Regions from separate parts of the Homo sapiens genome. Here region 1 is linked to region 2. Evidence: fine-mapped QTL for protein levels in blood plasma. A gene starts in region 2. The other region holds a variant in brackets. All regions are shown on one strand. Distances are from middle to middle. Region 1 overlaps PDCD1LG2 (programmed cell death 1 ligand 2). Region 2 holds the start of PDCD1LG2 (programmed cell death 1 ligand 2).

Region 1 (5,000 bases), 47 kb before region 2:
AGGGAAGAGGCTGGCTGTGTGCAGCTGTGGCTAAGGCAGGGACCTCCTCCTACCTCATCAACCCATAGGGGTCCTGCTTTGGGACCAATGACAGAGCATGTGTTGGGGAACCATAAGAACTGTAATCTTGTAGCACTGTGGTCTGTGTGGGGATCGGAACCAGCAAGGTTACCTTTGCACAGTGGATGGAGACATCTGGAAGGACCAGAGATTCTGCATGGCCGGAGTAGACAGCAACTGCTCAAAACCAGGGCCCTCTGGAGGACTAACCTAGCTGCCTAGCACTGGCCCTGTGGGCTAAGTAAGCTTTCTGGCAGTTTGTGGGAGGTGGAGAAGTACATGCTATAAGAGGGAGACACTGAACTTCTTGCTAAGATGGGCATGTGGGTACTTGAGGAATCAATTGGAAAATTAAAAGGGATGCAATTTAATTGGTAGTCCAAGCTATTAAAACAGATCCTAGACATGTGATTGTGTGCTGAGTATACTGAAAGAAGAAGTAGGTGCTATGGAAACATATAATAAGGGGATTTAATGTAATGGGTGTGGTGCGTGGAGGTAGAATTAGGAAAGACTTGATGAAGTATAAGCTTAGCTGAGATTTAAAAGATGACTCCAACTCAGGTGGACAACAAGAAAAAATATTTTAAGAAGAGACAATATTGTATGAGAAAACTCGGAATTGAAAGACTGCCATGCCTCTGAGGACTAGAAAATCCTGTGTGGTTAGAGCTTTAGACAATGAAGGTGATGGTGATGCAGTTAAAGCTGGAGACATGAGTCAAACCATCCTGGGCTCGTTGGAACTTCATCCAGTGAGCAATAAGAAGCCATGGAGAAGGTCTGGACAGAGGACACATGGTAGATTTATGATTTTTAAAAGCCTATTATAGCAAAAAGTGAGAACAGACCAAGTTGGAGGTAGCAGGAGTGAATACAGGGAAACCAGTTAGGAAGATTTCTCTGTAGTCCAAGTTGAACCACACTAGCGGCAGTGAAGTTCGGCCAATAAGCTGTAAAATGTTCCTTCTCTTGCTGCTTCCCCTTTTACAGATAGAAAGACCATCTCAAAGAAGATAGGCAATTTGTACAAGGTCAGAAAGCCAACAAATGGCAGCACAAGGTCCCAGCCTAGCCCTCTGACCCTGGTTTAAAGCTCTGTCTGCATCACCAGCAGTTCTCAACCCTTTTCCATGGCACACAAGTTTGTGTGCATGGCAGACACATGTAAGAAAGCAGATCTGAATGCAAGTGAGTTGGAGACAAGGGTTATATAGGCAACCATGATTTCTCTCTGGTTCATTAAAAATATAAAAGAAATTGTTTGCACATTTATTCACTTAATTCTTATTTGTAAGAAAGGTCTCCTAATCACAGTTAGAACTTGAGCTTTACCTCCCAGCTCGGAGCTACTGATATCCTCACTCACTCTTAAGATTGGGGTGAAGGATGAGGAGAGGATTTATTTCCACTCTATCTTTGAGTGTGACTCCATTCCATTCTCCCAAAGACAGCTGGAACGGAACACTCAGCTGCTCATTTCTGAAGTTATTAAGGAGTCCTCAGGCCCCAGGCCTTGAACCCTGAGGTATGGGTGTGAGAGGTAAAAGAAGAATGGCAGAAGATAAGACAACTGAGGTGCACCTGACACAACTCTCTGAAGTGGTTCTATTTAAAAGTCGAAGTTCTGTTGGACATACCTCCTCCTTTACCATGAAGCTCCCTTCCCTCCCACATTTATTTTTCTTTCTATCTTTCTTCTTCTCCATCTCCTGTTTTCTCTTTCTCCCTCACTCCCCTGGCCATCTTCTTCCCTCCCTCTGTCTTTTTCTTTTGGCAACAATTCCTTGCATTCTACAGTTAGAAATATTGTGGTCAGCACCCAAGTGAATACATACACACATAGGGCAATGGACAAATAGAACATGACAATATTTTATGGCAGATGAAAATATAGAAGTTATGAGTATAAATGTAAGATAACAACCACTTAAAATTCCCCTAGTCCTCAGATAGTGCTGCTGCAAACTCCTACTGAATTATTTCCACATGTCATTTCTCTTTCTATAGATGAGGCCATGTATAGATCTTTGGAGAAGTTCATTGAGTGCAGACAAGGGAGCCGTTTAGGAAAGCACCAGCTAGGCCTGCATACATTCTGGGGGTTTTGTGGGCAGGCTCCACCCAGGAAACCAAAGACAGACACATGAACAATGAAGCAATGAAATCAGGGCTGAAAGGCTTCAGCATGCTCTGTCCCAGCTGGTACAACAGAACAGGAGTGTGTTGGTAAGAATACAACAGGCTAAGGAGAAACTCGAAGGGAGCTGCTGAAAGACGTTAATGCACCACCAACCAGCTGTTTCCTTATCCCCAAATGGCCTCACAAACCTTTCTCCTTTCCTTACCCAACCGTGAGGTTGAGATTCCTGGGAGAGGGGGTGGGTTTAACCCAGGTCATATCCAGACTGGGGAAAAGAGGGGTGAAAATGGAAGGAATCCTCAGAAAGGATCCTGGCAACCTCCCACCAGCAAAATCGGAGCACGTAGCTCTCTGCATTGCCAAAATAACATCACTCTCATGAGGCTGATGAAAGCTCTTGGCTCAAAGAATAAGACAAACTCTTTCAGACATAAGAACAAAACATTCCCTTTAAAAAACTCAGTGTAAGAAGTTCAGCTCACTGACGATGAGAGCCATTTTCTTCTGGGGAAAAATAATCATCAAGACAAGCTCAAAGTGGTTCATAAGCTCTGAGTGGGTTTAGCATGAAAGCAGCAAGCCATAGGCCTGCAGTGCAAAGCAGTGGCTCATGCTGCAGACACCCAGTGCATTGGGTTACCATGAATAAAACTCACTTACCTTTTGAAGAATACAGCTTTTGACAGAGTTGTTTTCTTAGGGCT[A/G]TCACTGTGGCTATGAAAATGAAAGCAATGATGCAGAAGGGGATGAAAATGTGAAGCAGCCAAGTTGGATGGGTCCTGGGTTCCATCTGACCTGGGCAAAGGAAAAGCACCAGAATCCTGTTACATGGCAACTAAGAGGTAGACCAACAGGCTGGCCACATGAGTGGGTGACAGCCAACACGGCTAGCTCTGTGGAGCATTTACTCCACACCAGGCCCTATTCTAAGTGCTCTGCACCTATCAGCTCATCCACTCCTCGCAACCACTCTGTGAAGTTGGCTCTGCTATGATCCCCATTTCACTGGTGAAGAAAGGGAGGCACAGAGAGACTAGGAAGCTTTCCCTAAGTTACATAGTAAGTGACCCAGCTAAGATACAGTCTGGTTCCAGATTCTGTGCTTTTTACCACTCTCTCATGTTATTTTTTTCCATCCATCCATCAATCCATCCATCTATCATCTAATCATCTTTCTTTCTTTTTTCTCTTTTTCCTCCCTATCCCCCTTCTCCTCCTCATCCTCTCTCTCTTCCCAGTGGCAAAGTCTCTCAGCCCAAAAATGTCTTTCCCCCACTGACAAGTACTCACAGTGCTTAGAATCTATACCATTAGTTGTTAAATTTCAAGGATTAACAGGATCCTTTTGGAAGAAATAGAATATCCTAGGTAGTGTTAATATACTAAACCTAGTCACTCATGCCTTAGTGTGAATTATTACAATTGGCCCTTTGCCTTGTTTCGGTTTTTCAACGTCCTAGCACTGAGGAAAGGGTGAGTTTAGTAGAGGGTGGATCAGAAGAATAATTCTGGAGGCTGGGGAAAGCCTTGTAAAGTCCTCTGGTGTGTACAGATTAGAACAAGGGCTCCAGACTGACAAAAGGCAGGGCTAGAGGAGTGTTCACCTACAGGGAAATGAAAGGGTACTCAAGTTAATTTGTGCCCTATTCAAAAGCTTGAATTTTGCCTCTGGAGTCATTCACATGGAATAAACATGACAGGCTGGTACAGGAAAAACTGGACGAAACTGCTCAGCGGGAAGGGCTCAGTCCTCCCAACTTCCCAGCCCTCAAACCCCACTACCTCCAGCACAGTGCTATCTGAGAACCACGGATTGTTTTACTGGAGAAGAGATTAGACATTATTTAGTCTGAGCCCCTCATTTTAGAGTTGAGGAAGTAAGTCTCAGAGTTGCTAAATAATCTATGTGAGGTCATCACTGCTAAGTAAAAGTCAATGCCAGGATTGCAAACCCAGATCTATCTGACCCAAAGCTCAGCCCCCACAGATATTTGTCTCCATCCAAAAGAGTGTGATTAACATTAACGAAGAAAAGATAAGGAGCCTTGCTCATCCAAACATTGGATAACCCATATTGATTATAATCTGCTTCTTAATTTCTAGTAAGTGCTTAGTAAGCACTTTGTGAGTCAAGGAGACCTGGGCCTCTCACTGTCCCCACAACAGGAGAGGTCCCTACCTCAGTGTCTTTATGCAAACCCTTGTCCTGTGCAGGTTCCCTCATAGTCTCTTCCACGTACAGAAGCCCTACTCATCCCTGAAGACTCCAAAGTTGAACATCCAGTAGGAAATCAGTCTGCTTAGACTGTATTTGGAGGGCAAAGGCCTTATCTAAACTACCTCTGAGTCCTCTCTAGATAGAGCCAAGCAACAGCTACATGAAAAGTGCCAATATGGAATTGTTGCACTGAATTGACTGTCTCTTTTCTAGTCCACCTAGCCTGATCCTCCTAGTCATTTGTTACCTTGTGGTATACTGCTGGTTAATCCATTCTTTCTTTCAACTTTAGTATTAGGGAATTAGCTGGACACATGGCTTCTCAGAGACTATGTTTCCAAGCCTCCCCTATAGTTAAGTGGGCCCAGCCATGTAATCTAAGTTCAGGCTAAGAGAGTGAGTTTTCAAGGTCTTGGCCTTAAAACATTGAATGTGTTTTCCACCACTCGTTTACTTTCTGAAGGTTGAAACATGGGTTTGGCACTGACTGAGCTTTGACAATTTTATAGGGACAACATCCTGGAGAATGGCAGAGCAACAGATGAAAATAATCTGGATCACTGAATGACTCTATGGAAC
Region 2 (5,528 bases):
ACTGATGTAAAACAAGTGATAAAATTGCAAAAGCCCTAGAAGTTGACTAAAGGAAGGGAGACTTCCCAGAGGGGTAGGATTTGAACTGGGCCTTTGAAGCACTGGTAGGATTTGGGGTTGAAGCTATTCTAAAGGGCAGTGCATAGCTGACTCAGAAGCAGTCTCAGAGGTGCAAATGCACAGGCGTGTTGAGGGGACAATGAACAGAGTAACTTGGCTGGACACTTAGGTTGAGAATGTCAAGAGCTTAATGCCAGGCAGAGCTGCCAATCGGGAAATAGTGGCAGTCACTCAAAAACTAAGTGACAATACCAAAGGAGTATCTGAAAAAGATTACATCTAATTTTTTTTTTGAGTATAGAATTGAGGGTGGGTGGAATTGGTAGACAGCCTCTCAATTAGGGGGTCACTGTATTCATCTAGATGTTTGGTAACAAGGCCCTAACTTCAGGTCAGAAAAAGGAAGCAAGGAAGAGGAAGAAGAAACATATAAGACAATTGACAAAACAATTGACTGCTGATCAGCCATGCACAAGAGACAAAGAGAAAAGCAACAAGATTGACTGTGGTTTTAAGACCAGACTGGCAAGACAATATTGGAGCCATGGGGGAGGAAGGGTGGCAGGGAGAAATAGAAGATGGGGAGCTGATTTTAGAGGGAAGACAGTAAGTTTGGTTTTAGTCTGGGCAAGGCATAAGCATTCCAAAAAATTGTAGGTCCAGAGTTTGGGACAAAATTTAGGGCTAAAGATAAGGAAGTTATTTCTAATATGGAAATGTTAGTTAATATTGAGGAATGAATGAACCATCTGATGGGGAGAATATAAAAGAAAGATTATAAAGAAAAGATCTGAACTCAGGAACGTCCCAAAATTTGGAGAGCAGGAACAGAGGACTAGTGAAAAAGGCAGAGACAAGGTGGTCAGAAGAGCATCAGAAGCTCCCCCAGGGCAGTACTTCTGAGGCAATGGAGGAAAATCCCTCAAAGCAGGGGCAGTTCATCATAGGGAGCCGTGAAGACTAAGAACTGGAAGTCAGCCCACAGGTGTGTTAGAGACAGCTGGAAGGCATCAGAGGTGACTGGGGCTAGATAACCTTTCAGATGCTCTTGTCTGTCCTGGAATTCTGTGAGTTGATTTGAAGGTTATCGAGCCCAGCTACAGTGGAGCAGGGTGTGGCATGAGGAGGTGATACTACAGTTGCCCCTTTACAGAGTAACCCACGTATGCAACAATTAAGACATATGACATATTTGGACATTAGCATGTGGAATTAAAATGACACACAACAATCTACTGGTTGCTGTCCAATGTATTGTAAAGCAAATAAACTCTGAAGCATGACCCATAATACTGTCTCTACCATCTCCTTTTTCAAATCAACCTCAAACTTCCCCCTGTCCATTACACGAACATTTCATTTCTGGTGATTCTCCTGACATTTCATCAAATAAATCCATTCAACAATTCGGCAAGCACCCACTAAGCACCTATGTGTATTGCCAGGTACTGCACTAGGAACTTGGGACTCAGAGAACCTTAAAGGTGTGCTTCTTGCCTGTGAGGAGCTCCAGTTCAATGGAAAAGCTCACCAACAGGAGAAATCTGGGGAGAAGACACCCTGAAGCAGCAGACAACAAAGAGCCTGATGATGGGGAGACCTCAAATAATGAAGGCAAATAGATCAGGTTCCAGTGGCAAGAGCAGCAGGACCAGGATTGTTCATCCACTCACAGAATCTTAGGCTTGGAAAGGAGCTTGGAGGACATCCAGGCCAACTCCGTATTTGACCCTGATACAACTGTCTCATTACTGCTCACACTGAATATTTTTACTCTGCATTTTGTCAATTTAGGTCTCTCATTCCCTGCCCCTCAGAGCCATAGTATTTTTGGGTTAAAAGTCCTGATTAGTTGGTAATCTCACTCAGGCTTAGCCTCTCCACCTCCATCCCCTCCACATGAACCCATTGCCTTTGCTCTTCTACTCAGTGCATCCAGGCGGTGAGCAATCAATAGCAATTATTTCAGTTCTGTTTAATTTTTCTACCTTTTCGCTGATCATTTTATATGGAAAGAATAAGCCTTTCCATAGTCCCCAAATCATGCTTTTGTTCAATAATGATTACCTCTATAAGTTATTAAGATAATAGTTTTGGGTTTTTTGTTTTTGTTCCCCCTCCACCAACAGCTGCCTCTTAGGCATAGCTTGTAAACAAAGGCCAGCCTGGAGGGATCACCGTCTGCTAAATGGATAATCACAAACAGATGTCAGTCATAGGAAAACAGATTTTTAAGTTCTTCACCATTAAGCCTCCGAAAACTCTAAGCTGAGAGACAATCTTAAGAATAGTTATATTATTTTACAGTGCACATATTTGGTGCAGAAAATATCTCACCTTATAAAACTGAGCAACAAGAACAATATGCATAGGAACAAGTGAGAGAAATCTGGGGCAGGAGGACATTAGCTTATTTGTGCCCCTCAGCACAATTTCTGAGGCAGAATGTCTCTTGCCTCAAATGGTGTGGAGAGAAGGTAGGCCACCCTTCCCCCACCCTGGCAGCCTCATCATGGTCCACAACATAATAGTATGAGAGTATCTCAACCCACTCGTTACTCACATGAGGACTTGCCACAGCTCCACAAGTAAAGATGCAAAAGTAAACAACAAAAAACAGTTGCTGTTTGTGTTAGATTTCCTTATAGTAGCCACCAAAATGAACAGCCAAAAGGAAAAACAAAACAATCAACATGCAGTAGCTCCAACCCAGGATTCTTTCTAGCTGGGACATATGAGGATGGGTAACAAAAAAGCACTCAAAATTTGGCGTTAAGATATATTCAAGAGAAGAAAAGTTGTTCATTCAGCTTAAGGTTTGCCGTAACATGAGAGTGAGTCAAACCAGAACTAGTTCTGAGGAACTGACGAAAGCCTGGCTTATTTGGAAAGTTTTGGTTTTGCTTTTAGCAGTTTGTCTGTGAATGGGATTGCATTCCTGATTTGGCTCTTGGCTTAGCTATGGTTGGTGTTTAGGAATACTAGTGATTTTTGTATGTTCATGTGGGATCCTGAAACTTTCTGAAGTTTATCAGCTTAAGGAGCTTTTGGGCTGAGACTGTGGGATTTTCTAGATATAAAATTATGTCATCTGCAAACATGGGTAGTTTGACTTCCTCTCTTCCTTCTTGGATGCCTTTTCTTTCTTTCTCTTGCCTGATTGCTCTGGCCAGGACTTCCAATAGTATGGTGAATAGGAGTGGTGAGAGAAGGCAGCCTTGTCTTGTGCCGGTTTTCAAGGGGCATCCTTCCAGCTTTTGCCTATTCAGTGTGATGTTGGCTGTGGGTTCATCATAGATGGCTCTTATTATTTTGAGGTATGTTCCTTCAATACCTGGTTTGTTGAGAGTCTTTTTTTTAACATACCTTGAGAGTTTTTAATACCCTTTTATTCCCTCTCTTTCCCCTATTCTTATATGTGCTCCAGCTTCCCCATTGTCCCTGGAGCACATTTAGGAATAGGGGAAAGGGATGGAATGAAGAATACCAGCATGTCTTAGTGCTGTGCCAGGAAATTGACTCATTTCCTAGGGCTTCTGTAACACATGACCTCAAGTCCTTGGCATTCCCTGACTTATAGTTGTATCACTCCAATCTCTGCCTCCATCTTCAAATGACATTCTTTTCTGTGTGTATCTCTACATTCCTCTCCTCTTATGAGGATACCATCCGTTTGATTAGTGCCCACCCTAATGCAGTATGACCTCATTTAGACTACATCTGCGTAGACCCTACTTCCAAATATAGTCACATTCTGAGGTCCTCAGTAGACATGAATTTGGGGGGAACATTATTCAACTAACCTCACTTCATTTCATAGTGCCTCATTTCATTCTCAGTGCAATGTGTGGTTTAGAGTTAGACCCATTTTACACATGAGAAAACAGGACCAAGATCAAACAATGTTTCCTTAGTTGCATGGCTGAATTTGAACTCGGACCTCAGTGGCCCCACTATACCTTCAGGCTTGTGATTGGTGAGATTAAAACCACATGGCAAGAAAAGGCAAACTTGAATATAGGCCTGAATGATCAATCCTTCTCCTGCTGCCTCCCGCCCTTTTCCTTGTGCTTATAGGGGTAGGACCAGCAGAGATGTGGGGCTGAACACTCAGACAGAGGATGTTTTTAAGAAAACATCTCTCCTTGCCTGTCCTCTAAGCCTTCCCTGCCTCCTTGTTTCTTCTACAAAAGCAAGGATCTCCTTTCCTCCTCCTTGTCCTGCATCCTCTTTTCGTCCCATCGCTTGAACAAGAAGTACTTTAAGAAGTACTACGAAGCTGTGTAGTACCTACAGATGGGAGTGGCTGCCTAGACGGCAAGAGTTGGGACTGTGTCTGTGGGACCCGTGCTTCCTCTGGGGATCTGCTTCTACACCCACGGCTCCAGGCATGTGGTTTCCTTAGGAGTTGCCATTCTCTTACCTGACCCTCTGTTCCTGGCCACAGTGACTGGCTGAGGAATGGACATATGTCCCCTGTGTGGCTTTGAGTTTTAGTATCTATGGAAAACACACCTCACCTACCAGAGTTCCTGTCCTTCTTTAGGAGTGAGGTGCACTCACCACAGTTTCCTTTCCTCTCTCTTGGGTAGCCTTTCTCCAGGCTTGGCCTGCCTCTCCTCTTCACACTTTCCTTTGGGCAGTTCAGCTCTGCTTTGCCACAGTTTAGGGCATCCTGAAGCAAAGGAAGGCCCAGGTATATTCACAGCAAGGCCAAATGAAACTCAAGCTAGTGTCTCAGCACATTAGCCTGCCTCATAAATCTATATGTCTAGAGAAAATAATGGAGGGTTACAAACCAAAGTGTTAATAAAGGCATTTCTGGGTGGAGGTAACTTTTTTTAGTTTTTTGTTAAACTTTTGTTTTACATAGGTAACTTTTTTAGTTTTTTGTTAAACTTTTATTTTACATAGGTAAACTCGTGTCATGGAGGTTTGTCATACAGATTATTTTGTCCCCTAGATACTAAGCCTAGAACCCAGTCATTTTTTTTTTTTTTTTTTTTTTTTTTTTTTTTTTTTTTGCTCATCTCCCTCCTCCCTGGGGCCTCCACCCTCAGCTAGGCTCCAGTTTGTGTTGTTCCCCTCTTTGTGTCCATGTGTTCTTATCACTTAGCTCCCACTTATATGTGAACACATGTGGTATTTGGTTTTCTGTTCCTGCATTAATTTGCTAAGCATAATGACTTCCAGCTCCATCCATGTTCCCGCAAAGGACATGCTCTTTTTTACGGCTCTATAGTATTCCTTGGTGTATATGTACCACATTTTCTTTATCCAGTCTGTCGTTGATGGGCATTTAGGTTGATTCCATGTCTTTGCTATTGTGAATAGTGCTATGATGAACATGTGTGTGCATGTGTCTTTGTGATAGAATGATTTACATTTCTTTGGGTATATACCCAGTAATGGGATTGCTGGATTGAATGGTAGTTCTGTTTTTAGCTCTTTGAGGAATTGCCACACTG

The links. PIP is the chance, under the fine-mapping model, that this variant and not a neighbour inherited with it causes the effect. Protein levels are from the aptamer-based SomaScan assay of Sun 2018.
Region 1: its variant is fine-mapped to the plasma level of the PDCD1LG2 protein (Sun 2018, PIP 0.95). The variant lies in the coding sequence of PDCD1LG2. If it changes the protein, the assay may bind it differently, which can mimic a change of level.

Annotation. Positions count from the first base shown.
Region 1 is chr9:5,555,616-5,560,615 of GRCh38, reverse strand. PDCD1LG2 (programmed cell death 1 ligand 2) reads right to left here. Exons shown (of 7, transcript NM_025239.4): 5 at 2,864-2,998. The region is part of intron 1 of INCR1 (interferon stimulated noncoding RNA 1); the gene reads left to right. Among named protein-coding and RNA genes, the nearest start is that of PDCD1LG2, 48 kb to the right of the region's middle. The variant A/G (reference allele first, on the strand shown) is at 2,908.
Region 2 is chr9:5,507,899-5,513,426 of GRCh38, reverse strand. It overlaps PDCD1LG2 (programmed cell death 1 ligand 2), which reads right to left and starts at 2,896. Exons shown (of 7, transcript NM_025239.4): 1 at 2,624-2,896. All of the region lies in intron 2 of INCR1 (interferon stimulated noncoding RNA 1), which reads left to right. RefSeq lists enhancers at 2,798-2,847, 3,008-3,067, 3,128-3,207, 3,149-4,348.